Regions from separate parts of the Homo sapiens genome. Here region 2 is linked to region 1. Evidence: fine-mapped expression QTL. A gene starts in region 1. The other region holds a variant in brackets. All regions are shown on one strand. Distances are from middle to middle. Region 1 holds the start of CBFA2T2 (CBFA2/RUNX1 partner transcriptional co-repressor 2). Region 2 overlaps PXMP4 (peroxisomal membrane protein 4).

What was found. PIP is the estimated chance that this variant, and not a neighbour inherited with it, causes the effect. A credible set is the group of variants that fine-mapping cannot tell apart.
Region 2: its variant is the best candidate, but not a certain one, in a credible set for the expression of CBFA2T2 in skeletal muscle (GTEx, PIP 0.83).

What each region holds. Positions count from the first base shown.
Region 1 is chr20:33,487,031-33,492,401 of GRCh38, reverse strand. CBFA2T2 (CBFA2/RUNX1 partner transcriptional co-repressor 2) reads right to left here and starts at 2,306. Exons shown (of 11, transcript NM_001032999.3): 1 at 2,101-2,306. The coding sequence starts at 2,134. RefSeq lists silencers at 1,987-2,266, 2,277-2,496 and an enhancer at 2,591-3,139.
Region 2 is chr20:33,699,072-33,704,442 of GRCh38, reverse strand. PXMP4 (peroxisomal membrane protein 4) reads left to right here. Exons shown (of 4, transcript NM_007238.5): 4 at 1-1,685. Among named protein-coding and RNA genes, the nearest start is that of E2F1, 15 kb to the right of the region's middle. RefSeq lists enhancers at 3,155-3,866, 3,867-4,577. The variant T/C (reference allele first, on the strand shown) is at 2,486.

The DNA of each region.
Region 1 (5,371 bases):
TTATTATGGAAGTAAAGAAACAAAGGAAGACTACTTCATAGGCAGAAGAGCCCCCCAATTTTTTCAAATAAAAAGTCCTTTCTGGTCAGGCTTGGTGACTCACGCTCGTAATCCCAGCACTTTGGGAGGCTGAGGTGGGTGAATTACCTGAGGTCAGGGGTTCGAGACCAGCCTGACCAATATGGTGAAACCCTGTCTCTACTAAAAATATAAAAATTAAGGCCGGGCGCAGTGGCTCATGCCTCTAATCCCAGCACTTTGAGAGGCTGAGGCAGATGGATCCCCTGAGTTCAGGAGTTCACGACCAGCCTGGCCAACATGGTAAAACCGTCTCTACTAAAAATGCAAAAAATTAGTCAGGTGTGGTGGCAGGCGCCTGTAATCGCAGCTACTCTGGAGGCTGATGCAGGAGAATCGCTTGAACCTGGGGCGGGGGGAGGTTGCAGTGAGCCGATATTGTACTACTGCACTCCAGCCTGGGCAACAAGAACAAAACTCCGTCTCAAAAAAAATAATAAAATAAAATAAAATAATTGGCCGAGCGTGGTGGCATATGCCTGTAGTCCCAGCTACTCCGGAGGCTGAGACAGGAGAATAGCTTGAACCCAGGAGACGGAGGTTGCAGTGAGCCAAGATCACACCCCTGCACTCCAGTCTGGGCGACAGAGCAAGATTCCGTCTCAAAAAAAAAAAAGCCTTTCATTTTACAGAGATGCTGTACCTTTGCAAGCCTAAAAGAGTAATCACTATCCGCCTCTTTAGTTGGAAATTTCATGAGGAATGGATCAAACCATCAAAAGCAGTAACTGCAAGCTGGGTGTATCTACTTTTTCTATCTTCAATCCAACATTTAATGGGTGCAAAAAAAAAGAAGCGTAAAGCCTCCCTTTCACGTGTTTAAGGACATCAGCTCTGAGACTAGTACTCAGAGTACCTTCTGTTACTCAGTTTCATCCTCTGCAAAATGGGCATCCTCAAATAATGTCTTACTTAGGATGTCATCAAGATTAAACAATTAAAAAAACATGCAAAACATGTTTATCTGTTTCCTCATTTACTATGTCTCTCCCTCTCCTAACTAAACTCAAAACCCCAGTTCGGTCTATCTTGTTTATTGTATTCCCAGGGCCTGGAATGGTATTTTTAAACTTACTATATGATTTAATAAATATTAAGTGAATAGAATGCAAAATGTCTGGTGCTCAAAAAAATGTTGGCTATTATAATTACAATAATGAAAAACAATTAAAATTTTATTGTTCTTATTCAGAGAAGCCACCCCTCCCCCAAGGATCTCACACATCAAGGAGGAACACTAGATAAATACTGGAATGGCTAAATGGAAGTAAGAATAACAATTAGATCATGGAGCAGGACTAACAGACAACAAAACAAAATCTTAACACGGCTAGAGCCTAATTTCGGACTTTTCCGAGTGCGGTGCACACTGGATCAGATTAATAAAGGACGATTACAATAATGACAGTTTTCACAATTGTGTGTGTGCCACGGTCGGTGTCAAGCGTTTTACTGGCCTCACAAAACCCAAGAACCCTGGGGGAGGGAGGGAACCCGCTCCACATCCCCATTTTGCAGATGGGGGAACTGAGGCACCGGGAGAGCCAAGGTCACTACCTAAATGGGGAAGCCTGGATGTGAACCCAGGTAGCCAACTACTGAGCCTGCGCTCAAACAGGCCCTCCGAGGGGCCATTCTCATCTCCTCCAACCCTCAACATCGGGCGGGTGTAGTATTTCCCCAGGAGCCGGACTTCGTGGCCCCAGCGCTGGGACAACAAAATGATTCTTGCCCGCCGGCAAGTCCCATGGACGCCGGCCCGGCCTAAGTTCCGAGGCCGCGGGCCCCACAATTTCCCTCACACCGTGAGCCCCGAGCTCTTCGGGCGGCGCAGGAAGCGACGGGGTGGCCTCAGGAGCCCGGGAAGGCCCGCCCCGCTGCGTGACCTTGGATCCGCCGCCCCGCTTCGGGCCTCAGTTTCCACTCCCGGCCTCGCGCCCGGGGCACTCGGAATCACCGCGCCTGCGGAGCCGCAGGCCCTCACACGCCCCCCTCGGCCGCCCGCATTCACGCCCCACTTACGCTGGAAGGCGGCCGCTCCAGGGACGCCTACCATCGCCGAGCGCCGCCGCCGCGCGCCGCCCGCCTCTACCCGCGACACGGGTCCCTCGCAGGCGCCGCCCGCCTCGACCCGCGGCCCGGGTCCCTCGCAGGCGTCGCCGCGAGATCTGCAGCCGCCGAGCTAACCAGACACCACCACCGCTGCTGTCGCCGTCGCCGCCGCCGCCGCCGCCGTTAGGCCGCGCCCCGCCCCGCCCCCGGCTGGCCCCGCCCCGCCCGCCGGGCACGCCCCCGCCGCGCGCTCTCGCCGCCAGGCCAACGCACGCGGAAGCCCGGCCCCAAGACCAGCTCCCATTAAGCACCGCCCCCTAACCTGACCCGCCCCTTCCGCGGGAACCGACCGCCGAATCCCGGCGCAGCCTGCTTCTCAGACCTGCCCCCTCGGCGTCACGCGCGCCCGTCACGCGCACGGCCCACTTTCTAGCTCCAGACTTCCCGGTGTAGCCAGGGCAGTGGCCCAGGCTCGGGGGCCGAGTGCTAGGGGGAGGGATTACAACGAGTGGCAACGTCTCACCTGAGTTCTCCAGGTACAGGCCTGATGGCTTTTGCGCATGCCTTTGAGCGAGCCCCCTGGCTCAAAGTGTTTTTGGCCTGAAGTATTCTAAATGCCTAAAATTTCATCATCGTAATTTTAATAACTGTTGGCCGGGCGTGGTGGCCCACGCCTGTAATCCTAGTACTTTGGGAGGCCAAAGGAGAGTCACTTGAGCTCAGGAGTTTGAGACTAGCGTCTCTATTAAAAAAATAAATAAATAAAAATAAAAAATAGACCAGGCACGGTGGCTCAGGCCTATAATCCTAACACTTTGGGAGGCCGAGGAGGGTGGATTACCTGAGGTCAGAACTTCGAGGCTAGTCTGGCCAATGTGGCGAAACGCTGTCTCTACTAAAAATACAAAACTTAGAGCCGGGCGCAGTGGCTCAAGCCTGTAATCCTAGCACTTTGGGAGGCCGAGGCGGGAGGATCACGAGGTCAGGAGTTTGAAGACCAGTCTGGCCTATAAGGTGAAACCCTATCTCTACTAAAAAAATAAATAAATAAAAATACAAAAATTAGCCTGGTGCGGTGGCGCGTGCCTTTAGTCCCAGCTACTCGGGAGGCTGGGGCAGGAGAATCACTTGAATCCGGGAGGGGGAGGTTGCAGTGAGCCGAGATCGGAGCCATTGCACTCCAGCCTGAGCAAAAAGAGCAAAACTCCGTATCAAAAAAACAAAACAAGGCCAGGAGCTGTGGCTCACCCCTGTAATCCCAGCACTTTGGGACGCCGAAGCTGGCAGATCACAGCTCAGGATTTGGAGACCAGCCTGACCAACGTGGTGAAACCCCGTCTGTACTAAAAATACAAAAATTAGCTGGACTTGGTTTCACAAGCCTGTAATCCCAGCTAATCAGGAGGCTGAGACAGGAGAATTGCTTGAACCCCGGAGGCGGAGGTTGCACCGAGCCAAGATCACGACACTGCACTCCCACCTGGGTGACAGAGCGAGACTCCCTCTCAAAAAACAAAACAAAACAAAACAAAAAAATTAGCTGGGCGCGGTGGCGGGTGTCCATAATCCCAGCTACTCGGGAGGCTGAGGCAGGAGAGTCGCTTGAACCTGGGAGGCAGAGGTTGCAGTGAACCGAAATCGCGCCACTACACTCTAGCCTGGGCAACAGAGGGAAGCTCCGTCTGAAAAGAAAAGAAAAGAATAAAGACTCTTGTTTCTCAGTATTATTTCAGATATCTCACACCAAGAATATAGAATGCATTTGTATTTTACTTGTGTATTGAAAACAAATTTTAAAAGACAGAATGTAGGCCGGCCGGGTACAGTGGTTTATGCCTCTAATCCCGGCACTTTGGGAGGCCAAGGCAGGTGGATCGCTTGAGTCCAGGAGTTCAAGACTAGCCTGGGTAACACGGGGAAACCGCGCCTGTACAAAAAATACAAAAATTAGCCAGACATGGTGTTGCACACACGCTTGTAGTCTCAGCTACACAGAAGGCTGCGGTGGGAGGATCATATGAGCCAGGGAGTCAGAGGTTTCAGTTACCCCAGATCAGACCAATGTACTCTGGCCTGATCTAACAGATCAGGCGTGAGTAACAGAGTGAGACCCTGTCTCAAAAAAAGAAAAAAAAATGTAGAAATAAGAACATATGTGCATATACCAGCTGGGTATAGTGGTTCACACCTGTAATCCTAGCACTTTGGGAGGCTGAAGTGGGCAGATCACAAAAGGTCAGGAGTTCGAGACCAGCCTGGCCAACATGGTGAAAACCTGTCTCTACTAAAAATACAAAAGTTAGCCAGGAGTGGTGGCGTGTGCCTGTAGTCTCAGCTACTCAGGAGGCTGAGGCAGGAGGATGGCTTGAACTTGGGAGGTGGCAGTTGCAGTGAGCCAAGATCATGCCACTGCACTCCAGCCTGGGCCACAAAGCAAGACTCTGTCTCAAAACAAAACAAAAAAAAAAAAAAGAGAGAGAAGAAAAGAACATATGTGGCCAGGCATGGTGGCTCATGCCTGTAATCCCAGCACTTTGGGAGACTGAGGCAGACAGATCACCTGAGGTTGGGAGTTCGAGACCAGCCTGACCAACATGGAGGAACCCTGTCTCTAGTAAAAATACACAATTTGCTGGGCACATGCCTGTAACACCAGCTACTCAGGAGGCTGAGGCAGGAGAATCACTTAAACCCGGGAGGCAGAGGTTGCAGTGAGCCGAGATTGCGCCATTGCACTTCAGCCTGGGCAACAAGAGCGAAACTTCATCTCAAAAAAAAGAAAAGAACATGCATGTATATATATACTCTTTAAAGTGCCATGAGCACTGATGAAGAAAGCCCTCCCTAGAACGTTTTTGGAAAACACAATAAAAGGTACCAATGTACTCAGAGAGTCCCAGGAAGGGTCTCTAAACCACAACTAAAAGGCTATGAGGAATTCAGATGGGGTTAACAGCCCAGCTGAAATTTCACTTCCTTTGTGAAAATCTCTCCAATGCTCCTATCAAAAAATAATTTTCAAGACTGGGCAATAAAGTGAGACCTCCTTTCTACAAAAAATAAAAAAATTAGCAAGGCATGGTGGTGCACGCCTGTAGTCCCAGCTACTCAGGAGGCTGAGGCAGGAGGATTGGCTTGAGCCCAGGAGGTCAAGGCTGCAGTGAGCTGTGATCCGACCACTGCACTCCAGCATGGGTGACAGAGCAAGACCGTGCCTCAAAAAAAGAGTGATAATAATTTG
Region 2 (5,371 bases), 210 kb before region 1:
GAAGCTTCATCTGTATGTACAGCCACTCCCCACTGCTCACATTACCACCTGAGCTCTGCCTTCTGTCAGATCAGTGGTGGCATTAGATGCTCGTAGGAATGCAAACCCTATTGTGAACTGCGCATGCAAGGGATCTAGGTTGCATGCTCCTTATGAGAATCTAATGCCTGATGATCTGTCACTGTCTCCCGTCACGCCTTGATGGGACTGTCTAGTTGCTGGAAAACAAACTCAGGGCTCCCACTGATTCTACATTATGGTGTGTTGTACAATTATTTCATTATATATTACAAGGTAATAATAATAGAAATAAAATCCACAGTAAATGCAATGTGCTTGAATCATCCTGAAACCACGTCCCCTCCCCAGTGGTCCGTGGAAAAATTATCTTCCCCAAAACTGGTCCCTGGTGCCAAAAAGGTTGGGGACTGCTGCTCTAGGGGTTGGGGAGGGCAGAGGGCTTGGGCCATCACCAGGCAGGTTTTATAGCAGATGGTGGGGGTGCCCTGCCTATAGCTCCTCTAAATAACGACTCTGGTGCACACTAGCCAGCTTTGCCAGTGGCCGCCCCTCTGTCTTTCTGCCTGAGGACTCTAGCTTGTCACTGGTGCCTCCTTTGCCAGCCTCTGGCAGGCCTGAAGGGCTGGAGAATGAACACATCCTTGGAGCAACCTTCAACCAATGACTGATAAATACCCCCACTCCCACAGCCCGCATCCCTCACCCCTCGGGTGGGATAACTCAGAGGTGCGTGCTCCACACTGACTCCCAGGGCCGCCCAGCAGGGCTGAGCCTCAAACACCCTCCCCATCTCCCTTCCTCATGCCCCTACCAGTGCTTCCTGGGACCACTTCCCATATGAACCACTTGCACTCAAACCCTTGTCTTAGAGTCTGCTATTGGGGGAACCCAAACTAAAACTGGCCTCTGTACAGCAGGTTGAGAGGCAATATAGCATGGTGGTCAGGGACATAGGCTTTGGAGCCAGAGTGCCTGGGCTCAAGCCCTGGCCCCACAGTTTCCTTGGGCAAGTGACTGAGCCATTCTGTGCCTCTATTTCCTCATTGATAAAGTAGGCGTTGTCGTAGCACACACCTCATCGAGTGGTGTGGAGGGTTAAAGAATATGACACAGTTAAAGTGAGTCCCCAATAAATGCTGTTATTTCTAAGAGCATCCAAATGTAGAGGAAGTGTGCCCCTGAGGACTGAGCACACCCTGCTTTTAGCCTGTCCTGCCCCCAGCTGAAGGTGAAACCTTGGCCGCCTGCCCTCCTGAAGTCCCGCCACTGCTGCTGGGGGTTGGCCAACTCCGCTACCGACTGTCTCTGCTCTCTAAGAATAGGTTTCCCTCACAGATGGCATCTCTCTGGATGCTGCTAGAGCATCTGGTGCTTCCAACTGCACACTCCAGGGAGGAAGGCAGTGTGGTCTGTGCCGGGGAGCAGGGCTCTGCCTTCCAGCAGATCTGAGAGGAGTCCCATTTGGCTCCTTCCTAGCTGCCCTCCATTCTCTAAGACCTGTAAAACAGGGATGGCCAGAGGGCTCTTGTTGCACAGTAAGTGCTATGCTTCCTAAATGCTAGTTCCTGAAATAGAATGGTTTAACCTCTACTTACTAAACACCTGCTACAATCCTGTTAATTCTTTTGACATGTAAGACTAAAATAAATAAATAAATAAATAAATATATATGTGTATATATTTTGAGATGGAGTCTCGCACTGTCGCCCAGGCTGGAGTGCAGTGGCGCGATCTCGGCTCATGGCAAGCTCCTCCTCCCAGGTTCATGCCATTCTCCTGCCTCAGCCTCCCGAGTAGCTGGGACTACAGGCGCCTGCCACCATGCCCGGCTAATTTTTTCATTTTTTTTTAGTAGCGATGGGGTTTCATCATGGTAGCCAGGATGGTCTCGATCTCCTGACCTCATGATCCGCCCACCTCAGCCTCCCAAAGTGCTGAGATTATAGGCATGAGCCACCACGCCCAGCCTAAAAAAATATTTTTTTTTTTTTTTTTTAGAGAAAAGAGTTTAATGAACCCCATGTACCCAACGTCCAGTTCCAACAGTTATCAAGATGTTGCCACATTTGCTTCTGTTCCTTTTTTCTTTGTTTTTTTTTTTTTTTCCATTGATCACTCTTGGGTGTTTCTCGCAAAGGGGGATTCCGCAGGGTCATAGGACAACAGTGAAGGGAAGGTCAGCAGACAAACAAGTGAACAAAGGTCTCTGGTCTTCCCAGGCAGAGGACCCTGCGGCTCTCCGCAGTGTCTGTGTCCCTGGGCACCCGAGACTAGGGAGTGGTGATGACTGTCAACGAGCATGCTGCCCTCAAGCATCTGCCCAACAAAGCACATCCTGCACCGCCCTCAATCCACCCAACCCTGAGTGGACACAGCACATGTTCCAGAGAGCACAGGGCTGGGGGCAAGGTCATAGATCAACAGGATCCCAAGGCAGAAGAACCTTTCCTACCACAGAACAAAG[T/C]GAAAAGTCTCCCATGTCCACCCCCCTCCACACAGACACAGCAACCATCCGACTTCTCAATCTTCTCCCCACCCTTCCCCCTCCTCTACTCCACAAAACCACCATTGTCATCATGGCCCGTTCCCAATGAGCCGCTGGGCACACCTCCCAGACGGGGTGGCGGCCGGGCAGAGGGGCTCCTCACTTCCCAGTAGGGGCGGCCGGGCAGAGGCGCCCCTCACCTCCCGGATGGGGTGGCCGGCCGGGCGGGGGGCTGACCCCCCCACCTCCCTCCCAGACGGGGCGGCCGGCCGGGTCGGGGGGCTGACCCCCCCACCTCCCTCCCGGACGGGGCGGCCAGCCGGGCGGGGGCTGACCCCCACCACCCTCCCGGACGGGGTGGCTGCCGGGCGGAGACGCTCCTCACTTCCCAGATGGGGTGGCTGCCCGGCGGAGGGGCTCCTCACTTCTCAGACGGGGCGGCTGCCGGGCGGAGGGGCTCCTCACTTCCCAGACGGGGCGGCTGGGCAGAGACACTCCTCACCTCCCAGACGGGGTCGCGGCCGGGCAGAGGCGCTCCTCACATCCCAGACGGGGCAGCAGGGCAGAGGCGCTCCCCACAGCTCAGACGATGGGCGGGAGGGCAGAGCCGCTCCTCACTTCCTAGATGGGATGGCGGCCGGGCAGAGACGCTCCCCACTTTCGAGACTGGGCAGCCAGGCAGAGGGGCTCCTCACATCCCAGACGATGGGTGGCCAGGCAGAGACGCTCCCCACCTCCCAGACGGGGTGGCGGCCAGGCAGAGGCTGCAATCTCGGCACTTTGGGAGGCCAAGGCAGGCGGCTGGGAGGTGGAGGCTGTAGCGAGCCGAGATCACGCCACTGCACTCCAGCCTGGGCACCACTGAGCACTGAGCACTCCGTCTGCAATCCCGGCACCTCGGGAGGCCGAGGCTGGCGGATCACTTGCGGTCAGGAGCTGGAGACCAGCCCGGCCAACACAGCGAAAACCCGTCTCCACCAAAAAAATACGAAAACCAGTCAGGGGTGGCGGTGCGGCCCGCAATCGCAGGCACTCGGCAGGCTGAGGCAGGAGAACCAGGCAGGAAGGCCGCAGTGAGCCGAGACGGCGGCAGCACAGTCCAGCCTTGGCTCGGCATCAGAGGAAGACCGTGGAAAGAGAGGGAGAGGGAGACTGTGGGGAGAGGGAGAGGGAGACCGTGGGGAGAGGGAGAGGGAGAGGAAAAAATATATTTTTTTTTAAATTCTTTTTTTTTTTTTTATTGATCATTCTTGGGTGTTTCTCGCAGAGGGGGATTTAGCAGGGTCATAGGACAATAGTGGAGGGAAGGTCAGCAGATAAACAAGTGAACAAAGGTCTCTGGTTTTCCTAGGCAGAGGACCCTGCGGCCTTCCGCAGTGTTTGTGTCCCTGGGTACTTGAGATTAGGGAGTGGTGATGACTCTTAACGAGCATGCTGCCTTCAAGCATCTGTTTAACAAAGCACATCTTGCACCGACCCATTTAATCCTGAGTGGACACAGCACCTGTTTCAGAGAGCACAGGGTTGGGGGTAAGGTCACAGATCAACAGGATCCCAAGGCAGAAGAATTTTTCTTAGTACATAACAAAATGAAAAGTCTCCCATGTCTACTTCTTTCTGCACAGACACGGCAACCATCCGATTTCTCAATCTTTTCCCCACCTTTCCCCCCTTTCTATTCCACAAAACCGCCATTGTCATCATGGCCCGTTCTCAATGAGCTGTTGGGTACACCTCCCAGACGGGGTGGTGGCCGGGCAGAGGGGCTCCTCACTTCCCAGTAGGGGTGGCCAGGCAGAGGCGCCCCTCACCTCCCGGACGAGGCGACTGGCCGGGCGGGGGGCTGACCCCCACCTCCCTCCCGGACGGGGCGGCTGGCCGGGCGGGGGGCTGACCCCCCCACCTCCCTCCCGGATGGGGCGGCTGGCCGGGCAGAGGGGCTCCTCATTTCCCAGTAGGGGCGGCCGGGCAGAGGCGCCCCTCACCTCCCGGACGAGGCGGCTGGCCAGGCGGGGGGCTGACCCCCCACCTCCCTCCTGGACGGGGCGGCTGGCCGGGCGGGGGGCTGACCCCCCCACCTCCCTCCCGGATGGGGCGGCTGGCCGGGCAGAGGGGCTCCTCATTTCCCAGTAGGGGCGGCCGGGCAGAGGCGCCCCTCACCTCCCGGACGAGGCGGCTGGCCAGGCGGGGGGCTGACCCCCCACCTCCCTCCTGGACGGGGCGGCTGGCCGGGCGGGGGGCTGACCCCCCCACCTCCCTCCCGGATGGGGCGGCTGGCCGGGCAGAGGGGCTCCTCATTTCCCAGTAGGGGCGGCCGGGCAGAGGCGCCCCTCACCTCCCGGACGAGGCAGCTGGCCGGGCGGGGGGCTGACCCCCCCACCTCCCTCCCGGACGGGGCGGCCGGCCGGGCGGGGGGCTGACCCCCCCAACTCCCTCCCGGACGGGGCGGCTGGCCGGGCGGGGGGCTGACACCCCCCACCTCCCTCCCGGACAGGGAGGCTGGCCGGGCGGGGGGCTGACCCCCCCCCACCTCCCTCCCAGACGGGGCGGCTGGCCTGGCGGGGGCTGACCCCCACCTCCCTCCCGGACGGGGTGGCTGCCGGGCAGAGACGCTCCTCACTTCCCAGATGGGGTGGCTGCCGGGCGGAGGGGCTCCTCACTTCTCAGACGGGGCGGTTGCCAGGCAGAGGGTCTCCTCACTTCTCAGACGGGGCGGCTGGGCAGAGACGCTCCTCACCTCCCAGACGGGGTTGTGGCCGGGCAGAGGCGCTCCTCACATCCCAGACGGGGCGGGGCGGCGGGGCAGAGGCGCTCTGCACATCTCAGATAATGGGCGGCCGGGCAGAGCCACTCCTCACTTCCTAG